Linked DNA regions of Homo sapiens. The protein of the gene in region 1 interacts with the protein of each later gene in a pairwise test. Each region holds a gene or a part of one and is shown on either strand. Other genes may lie near its edges.

Region 1 (3,200 bases):
CTACCTATTGGGAACTATGTTCACTGTTTGGATGATGGGATCAGCAGAAGCCCAAACTGCCTCATCATGCAATATATCCATTTATTAATAACAAACCTGTACCCTCTCAATCTAAAAAAATAGGATGGGCACAGGGGCTCATGCCTATAATCCCAGCACTTTTGGAGGCTGTGGCAGGAGGATTGCTTGAGGACAGGATTTCTTTGTTTCTTCTTCTTTTTCTTTTTTTTTTTTTTTTGAGATGGAGTCTTGCTGTCGCCCAGGCTGGAGTGCAGTGACACGATCTCGGCTCACTGCAACCTCTGCCTCCTGGGTTCAAGTGATTATCCTGCCTCAGCCTCCCAAGTAGCTGGAATTACAGGTGCCTGCCATCATGCCTGGCTAATTTTTGTATTTTCAGTAGAGACAGGGTTTCACTATGTTGGCCAGGCTGGTCTCAAACTCCTGGCCTCAAGTGATCCGCTCACCTCAGCCTCCCAAAGTGCTGGGATTACAGGCGTGAGCCATTGTGCCTGGCCAAGGCCAGGATTTTGAGGTCAGCATGGGCAACATAGTGAGACCTCATCCACCCACAAGAAGTGAAAATATTAGTACTGGTGTGCACCTGTAGTCCCAGCTACTTAGGAGGCTGATGTGGGAGGTCCCAGGAGTTCGAAGCAGCAGTGAGCTGTGATCACACCTCTGCACTCCAGCCTGGGTAACAGACTGAGACCCTGTCTCAAAAATATATATATGTTTATTAGGCACCTACTGAATTCCTGGCAATCTTTGAGGCACTGGGGATTTAGCAATGAGCAGATAAAAATCCTTCCCCTCAGGGAGTTTACCTTCTAGTAAAGCAAAGCAGATAGTAGACAAATAAATGGAAAATGTAAAAGTGACAAGATGTGCTACGAAAAGACATGAAGTTGGCTGAGGGCCAAGGTGGACAGATTGCTTGAGCCCAGGAGTTCGAGACCAGCCTGAGTAACCTGGTGAAACTCTGTCTCTACTAAAAATACAAGAAATTAACCAGGTGTGGTGTTGCACACCTGTAGTCCCAGCTACTAGGGAGGCTGAGGTGGGAGGATCCCTTGAGCCTGGGAGTTCAAGCTGCAGTGAGCTATGATTGCACTGCTGCATTCTAGCCTGGGTGACAGAGTGAGACCCTGCTCCCCAAAAAAAAGAAAATAAATTGATTTTAAAAATCAATAAATAGGCTGGGCGCAGTGGCTCACACCTGTAATCCCAGCACTTTGGGAGGCTCAGGCAGGTGGATCACGAGGTCAGGAGATTGAGACCATCCTGGCTAACAAGGTGAAACCCCATCTCTACTAAAAATACAAAAAAAAAAATTAGCTAGGCGTAGTGTCAGGTGCCTGTAGTCCCAGCTACTCCAGAGGCTGAGCCAGGAGAATGGCATGAACCCAGGAGGCGGAGCTTGCAGTGAGTGGAGATCACGCTGCTGCACTCCAGCCTGGGCGACAGAGCAAGACTCCGTCTCAAAAAAAAAAAAAATCAATAAATAGGGTGGGCACGGTGGCTCATGCCTGTACTCCCAGCACTTTGGGAAGCTGAAGTGGGTGGATCACTTGAGCCCAGGAGTTTGAGACCAGCCTGGGCAACATGGTGAACCCCGTCTCTACAAAAAATACAAAAATTAGCTGGGCAGGTGTGGTGGTACATGTACCTGTGGTCTCAGCTACTTGGGGGATTGAGGCGGGAGGATTGCTTGAGCCCAGGAGTTCAAGGCTGCAGTGAGCTATGATTGCGCCACTGCATTCCAGCCTGGGTGACAGAGTGAGACCTTGTCTCAAATAAATAAATAAATAAATAAATAATAAATCAATAAAAAAATAAAGTGGAGGAAAATACTGCTTCCCTTGGCATCTCAAGTCTGGTTGTTCATCCGCAAGGTCAGCTGGATCTGTAGACTCAGTGGCATAAGGCTGAGGCTGCTTCTGAGAGAGGCAGGGAAACGGCCACTGTTACACACTACAGACCCCTAGTCCCAGCTGAGGGACCTTGCTCAGACCCCTGCCAGCCTGGGCCAAAGGTATCAAAGATTTGCTCTCAGAGACCCAGCAGCCAGGGGATTATTCAGATGACATTGCGACCCAGAGCCCTAAGGTCACTCAGAAATGTCTTGGGATGGCTGGTGTTAGGAACAAGGGCCTTTCAGCAGAAGCCAGCCCCTAAAAGAATGCCAGAGCTGACAGTGAGAGAAACGGGATGCCAAGCAGGGCTGGAGAGGAGAGCGTAAAGGACCAGACAGAAGAGCCGCCTGATAGCTTCCGCTGTGCTTCCTGCATCTGGCCCTCTTTGAGAGCCCCTTGTGTGCCAATGACAAACCCTTCTTTATTTAAGCTCCTCTGAAGTGCCTTCCTGGTCTTGGCAGCTGGACAGGGCCCTGAATAAGACAGCGAGCCTCAATGGCAGGCTACCCCAGGGCTGGGTGACGTATCCAACCCCACAGAAAGTCATCTGTGTTTTCTTTGCCTTTGTTTTAGGGAGCACTGTGTTGGTTTGGCCTCATTTACATGCCGACGGAGTGTTTTGCTGTTGCATTCAAGTGAAAGTTATTCCTGTTCCCCAGCCCCTCAGTTCTGGAGATCTCAGGCCTTCTTCCCACGGAATGTTGTTAAGACTTATGCTCTTACTGACCCCTGCTGGCAGTCAGTGGGTATTGCAGGCAAAGGCACAATACAGCCCTATTTTTGAGACAGGGTCTGTCTGTCACCCAGGCTGGAGTGCAGAGGTGTGATCACAGCTCTCTGCCGCTTTGAACTCCTGGGTTCAAGCAATCCTCCCGCCTCAGCCTCCCAAGTAGCTGGGACTACAGGCACATGGCACCACAGCTGGCTAATATTTTTACTTTTTGTAGGTGGAGGGGGTCTCACTATGTTACCCGGGCTGGTCTCAAAATCCTGGCCTTGACTGGGCACAGTGGCACACACCTGTAATCCCAGCACTCTGGGAGTCTGAGGTGGGCTGATCACTTGAGGCCAGGAGTTTGAGACCAGCCTGGCCAACATGGCGAAACCCCATCTCTACTAAAAATACAAAAATTAGCCCTTCTCTGTCTTGATCTACTTCTGCCCTGGGACCCTGACAACCACTCACTCACTCTTATTGAGTACCAAGGGGTACCAATACAGTAGTAAATCCTACAGACACAGCTCTACCCTTATGAAGTTTACAGAAAATATCAGTAACTATGG
Region 2 (2,850 bases), on another chromosome or scaffold:
AGGTACAGAAAGTTGAACATTTTTTGGTTCATCCATATTAACTGTCAAATTTAAAATATTCTGAGCCACTTGGGAAGGTATAGTTCATGAATTTTGGTCTTTAAGGAAACTAAGAAAGTAGATAGACTCTTAGATCATGTGCAAGCCATAGATTAATTGTGACTAATACCATCCCCAGACTCTTAAGTTTCGGCATGACATTCTGGTATTTGTGCAACTGCTCTTCCCTAATTCTGATATTCTCAAGAGTTAAGGTTGATGTCTTTATTCAAAAAAGAGATGGTTAAATAGCAGTCAACAGTGTGTAAATATGAGCGGAGTTGTCTGTATTAAAATGTGGCAAATTGGCTGGATGTAGTGGCTCATGCCTGTAATCCCAGCACTTTGGGAGGCTGAGGCGGGGGTGTATCACCAGGTCAGGAGTTCGAGACCAGTCTGGCCAAGATGGTGAAACCCCATCTCTACTAAAAATACAAAAATTAGTGAGGCGTGGTGGCCAGCGCTTTTAATCCCAGCTACTTGGGAGGCTGAGGCAGAGAATTGCTTGAACCCGGGAGGCAGAGGTTGCAATGAACTGAGATCACGCTACTGCACTCCAGCCTGGGCGACAGAGTGAGACTCCATCTAAAAAAAAGAAAAAAAAGGTGGCAAATCGAATATCTTGGTGTAATATATTCGTTTTCCTTTTTTGAAACTTACTATATTTTGGCCCAAATTGAGGCTTGTGGGATTAGGTCCTGAACTTTTACGTGGGGTTTGAATCTTTAGGCAGTTAGAGTGATAAGAAATGCAGTTTTTTAAAAGTTGACTTGTACTGGTTGAGGTCTCTATTAGAGCCAGCCATATATAGGAATTGCAGAATAACATGGTGGTTATGAAAGTAGATTCTGCAGTCAGTGTTTTGGATTTGAAGCCCAACCTCAGTACTTGCTGGCAGTGTGACCTTGAACAAACTATTATACCTATTTGACTGTTTCTTCTTCTGTAAATGGGGATAGTAGTCTCTACTTCAGAGGATTATGAGGACCAAGTGAAATAATGCATATAAAATGCTTACAACAGTGCCAGTAATCTGGTACATACTTAATAAATGTTAGTGAAATTGGCCTTTTGTGAAAGCTTATTGAGTATGAAATTGCTCTTTCTACTTCGTCACTAATCAAACCTTATCTTTTGCCACTCCACTTTGGCCTCCTGATAGGTTACAAGTTGAAATGCATATGGGGGGAAAAGAGTCATATTATTTATTCAAACACCTACTTGTCAAGTGCAGGAACTGTGCTGAGTAGTCAGAGTATAAGGACATGTAGAAACTTTTCCTGCCTTAAAGAACTTATTAGTGGATAATTAATCAAATTTATAGTCTTAATTTTTTTTATTATAAGTATTCAACAAGTGTTTTTAGTGTGTAAGATGTGACCAGTGAGGGAAAATTGGTGTAGAAAATGCCAAACGTGGTAAAAAGGCATTCGAAGGGGAAAAAAAGAAAATGCCAGACATGCTAAGGGAGGGCAGAAACATCCAGATAAATTTATTTATCTAATATGGAAAGTAGTATGTACTGTCTTTAATAAAGGTATTGTTCTTTTTAAAATTCAGGTTCAATTTTATTTACAACTGAATTCCTGCGCAGTGGAGAAGTAAAAGAAGCCGCTTGTCTCTGTGAGCACAGCTATATACAGTGTAGAATAAATGTGGTAGAAAAGTTTTTTTGGTTTTATCTCTTTTGCGATCCCTAAATTGCCACCTTTCTATTGTTTGAATAGTAAAATTAATATGAAGAACTAGATAGTGGTGTAAACAAATGTGATAATGTTTATTTACTTTCGGTTCTGCTCATACTTTTTTGTACAACATTAAAGAAAATGGACTTTTTTTATTTTAATTTCTCATTAAACTTCTAAAATTCTTATAGGTGAGGATCATTTTTCCCCCCACCTTAGGATGGTGAATGTTGCAACACAATGACAGGTTTAAGTCAGTCAAGTTTATTGGACCCTTGCTTTGATACCATTCTTGGGCACATACTCCAAGATTGTATTAGATTTTTGTGATGAAGAGCTTCCATTACTTCTGAAAACTATATTTATCTGAGTGAGTCCAAGGTGCAACTCCTAAATGAATTGTGTTGCAGAGAACTCCCAGTATAATTCACTGACCAGTACATTTTATAACCATCCAGGCCTTGGTTTGCAAGCAACAGACCTTAAACATACAGGAAACTATTAAAATTGGCTCGATCAGTAGTCATAGGAATTGGTATAAGAAGAGACTCATTTAGAGCTCAGAGTTTTCTTCACATAATGGGGGTATTAATTATTTGTGCTGTTGCGAAATTATGTGTCTTATTCTTAAAGCCATGGTAAAAATAGGGATCTGTGAAGGAAATTTCTAAAATTGGATGTATTAGGTTTTGAACTCTGAGATTGCACAAATATTCAATTAACTTGAAGTTGTGTACATAGAGAAGAAAATTTGGTTTTAGCAAATGACAGAGCCTTCAAAAATATTTTTGGAATAATGTGAATCAACCGAAAACTGGGGGCAAGGCAGAGGACAGGTTTTCTCAGGTTAAGAGAAAAACGAAATTTTAAAAACTTTAAAAAATACTGATAAATTCGGATCAAATTTGGGGGAATAAAAAATATTAGAGCAAAGGAGTTTGCTGGTTGTGTCATTATTTAATGATCAAAGTATAGCATGTATGCCTTATTACAGACTTGTTGACTATAGGCTTAATGTAAAAAGGAATCTTGCCAGATGTAGCTACTTAAGGAAAAAAGGGTTTTTAATAGAAATGAACTTTTGATTAGTATGGTGCCAGTCACAGGGCTATTTTCCTGAATATTG
Region 3 (3,500 bases), on another chromosome or scaffold:
TTAGGTGTAGATCCAGAAATCCCAAAGTATTCTGGTATCAGAGTGTGAATCACAGACCTGCAGAATCCATATCACCTGAAAGCTTTAGAAATGCAGAATCTCAGGCCCCATCCTGGAGCTACTGAATTAAAATCTCTATTTTAACACGATCCCTAGGGATTCATATACACATTAAAGTTTGAGGCCAGGTACAGTGGCTCACGCCTGTAATCCCAGCACTTTGGGAGGCTGAGGCAGGCAGATCACTTGGGGTCAGGAGTTTGTGACCAGCCTGGCCAACATGGTGAAACTCCGTCTCCATTAAAAATGCAAAAATTAAGCAGGTGTGGTAGTGCGCACCTGTAGTCTCAGCTACTTGGAATGCTAAAGGAGGAGAATCGCTTGAACCCAGGAGGTGGAGGCTGCAGTGACCCGAGATTGTGCCACTGCATTCCAGCCTGAGCAACAGAGCAAGACTGTCTCAAAAAGAAAACATTGAGAAACACTATTTTAGTCAACTACGTTGTTCAAAGAAGGAAGAGAGGAGACTTGAGCTAGATAGGAGGGGTGAGTAAGCCCAGGCTTGAGGGCCAAGTCAGTTAATGATAAGAATGGCTTAAGCAAAGGAATGCTGGGAATGGTTCAAGTGATAGAGATTTCACGTTGAGGGTTAGGTGTTGGTAAGAAATGAGTTAAATAGATAAATAGAGGGTGGGTGTGGTGGCTCATGCCTGTAATCCTAGCACTTTGGGAGGCTGAGGCGGGTGGATCTCTTGAACCCAGGAGTTCAAGACCAGCCTGGGCAGCATGGCGAAACCCCGTCTTTACTAAAAATACAAAAAATTAGCCAGGTATGGTTGTGTGCACCTGTAGTCTTAGCTCTTCAGGAGACTGAGATGAGAGGATCATCTGAGCCCAGGAATTCGAGGCTACAGTGAGCTGATGTCACACTACTGCACTCCAGCCTGGGCGATAGAGCAAGAAACCATCTCAAAAATATATGTATAATAATAATAATTGGAGCCAGTACTAAGGAGACCTGTATATCAGGCCAATTAATTTTCATTTGATACTCCAGCAGTAGTCATTGATGATTTTTGAGCTGAAGAGCAATTTGCTGAAAGAGCAGCATTTTAGGAAAGTTTAGCTAGTGACAGTGTCTGAGAAAATTGGGAGGGTGACAGAGTATAAGCAAGAATATAAACAGAGGAGGAGTTTTAGTAAGACAGGCATCAAGTGATGAAACTTGGTCTAAGTATATGACCATGAGAACAGAAATTACAGAAGAGGCATTTCAAAGGATGGATAGAAAAACACTGGTTTTGGCCGGGCGCAGTGGCTCATGCCTGCGATCCCAGCACCTTGGGAGGCCGAGGCGGCCAGATCACCTGAGGTCAGGAGTTCGAGACCAGCCTGGCCAACATGACGAAACCCTGTCTCTACTAAAATACAATAAATTAGCCGGGTGTGGTGGTGGGCGCCTGTAATCCCAGTTACTCAGGAGGCTGAGGCAGGAGAATTGCTTGAACCCAGGAGGTGGAAGCTGCAGTGAGCCGAGATTGCACCACTGCACTCCAGCTGGGGTGACAAGAGCGAAACTCTGTCTCAAAAAAAAAAAAGAAGAGAAAAATACTGGGTTTCTTACTATACTGGAGTATTAGGTAATTTAAGTAGTGGTGCTATTGACAGATAAAGGATGTTAAGAGTGGTGTGGTGGAGAATGACGAGTATTTTATTATACACATACAGAAAGCCTCCTGATTGACTTCTGTCTTAATCTGCTCCTTAGTCTATTTTGGTGATCATCCGTCTCACAGTTACGTCTCACCTTTTGCCTTGCAAATAACATTGTTCTACTTTCTTGCCTATCTGTGTCTAGCACCTTTAAAAGCCTGGTTTAAACCTTTGATCATTCACTCTCCACTTGTAGCAATGTTTTCTTGTAGATGCCAAAAAAGTGATTACTGACTTTATATAGATGTATTTGCCAGGTATATTATATCTGATCACTAATAGTATTTTAGATTTTTTTGTTGTTGTTGAAATGGAGTTTTGCCCTATCACCCAGGCTGGAGTGCAGTGGTGTGATCTTGGCTCACTGCAACCTCTGCCTCCTGGGTTCAAGCAATTCTGCCTCAGCCTCCTGAGTAGCTGGGCTTACAGGCACATGCCACCACGCCTGGCTAATTTTTGTATTTTTAGTAGAGACAGGGTTTCACCATGTTGGCCAGGCTGGTCTCGAACTCCTGACCTCAGTTGATCCGCCCACCTCAGCCTCCCAAAGTGCTGGGTGTATTACAGGCCTGGGCCACTGCACCCAGCCTTTTTTTTTTTTTTTTGAGACAGTATTGCTCTGTGGCCCAGGCTGGAGTGCAGTGGTGCAATCTTGGCTCACTGCAACCTCCACCTCCTGGGTTCAAGGGGTTCTCCTGCCTCAGCCTTCCAAGTAGCTGGGACTACAGGCACATGCCACCACACCCGGCTAATTTTTTGGATTTTTTATAGAGATGGGGTTTCATTGTGTTAGCGTGGATGGCCTCAATGTCCTGACCTTGTGATCTCCTCAGCCTCCCAAAGTGTTGGGATTACAGGCGTGAGCCACCGCGCCCGGCCCTAATTTTTGTATTTTTAATAGAGACAGGGTTTCACCATGTTGGTCAGGCTGGTCTCTGACCTCAAGTGATCCACCTGCGTTGGCTTCCAAAGTGCTCAGATTACAGGCGTGAACTACTGCGCCTGGCCGTGTTTTAGATTTGATCAGGCTAAGAGGGTATTCTTTTGAATGTTTGTTTTTTTCTCTGTTTATTTACATTTGCTTTAGGTTAATAGTGTTTTCTTCAAATGCAAAAGATATATATATATATATATATAGGGATATTTGTCTTTATCCACACTAGCTCCATTTATTTTACATGAGCCATCTTTTCAACAATGGACAGGAGAGTGTAATGAATCCCCATGTACTCATCACCCAGCGTGAGCAGTTATCAACTCCTGACTGCTTATTATGTCTAAATTCCTGCACTATATTATATAGAATATTCCTGCATATTATTTTGGCATAATCCCTGACATCGTATCGTTTTGTTTGTAAATACTTAATGTGTATCTCTAAAAGATCAGAATACTTGATGAAAATCATAGTACCATTATCACACCAAAAAAATAGTAATGTCTTAACATCACTTGATGTGCAGGTTATTGTTTACTTTTCCAAATGGAAATGAGCACCTTTTGAAGAACATAACTTTCAAACTTTCTGGTACAGACTGCAGTTTTTAAAAGATATTTCCAGTGTTATGTTTGCTGATCAGAAGACTATCAACTTTTGATCACCATTATTATCACAGAATAGATAATATATGAATGCCTCCTTAATCTCAGACTAACCACACTCTACCACCCTACTTTCTTTTTCCATCAGAAAGCATTCTAATTTTAAAATTATTCTAAGTCTAATAAAATTGAGAAAGTAAATGTACTGAAAGTGTTATAATGAATTAATAAAAGCCAAACTTCAT

What was found.
Region 2: the proteins of FBN3 (region 1) and NUDT21 interact in a two-hybrid assay, tested with the Homo sapiens proteins (one large-scale study listed by BioGRID and IntAct).
Region 3: the proteins of FBN3 (region 1) and ANXA7 interact in a two-hybrid assay, tested with the Homo sapiens proteins (one large-scale study listed by BioGRID and IntAct).

Annotation. Positions count from the first base shown.
Region 1 is NC_000019.10:8,066,908-8,070,107, forward strand, and holds part of FBN3 (fibrillin-3 precursor), read right to left. Parts: intron 1-3,200.
Region 2 is NC_000016.10:56,431,483-56,434,332, reverse strand, and holds part of NUDT21 (cleavage and polyadenylation specificity factor subunit 5), read left to right. Parts: coding exon 1-2; intron 3-1,599; coding exon 1,600-1,621; 3' UTR 1,622-2,850. UniProt on the Homo sapiens protein: Component of the cleavage factor Im (CFIm) complex that functions as an activator of the pre-mRNA 3'-end cleavage and polyadenylation processing required for the maturation of pre-mRNA into functional mRNAs.
Region 3 is NC_000010.11:73,404,059-73,407,558, reverse strand, and holds part of ANXA7 (annexin A7), read left to right. Parts: intron 1-3,500. UniProt on the Homo sapiens protein: Calcium/phospholipid-binding protein which promotes membrane fusion and is involved in exocytosis.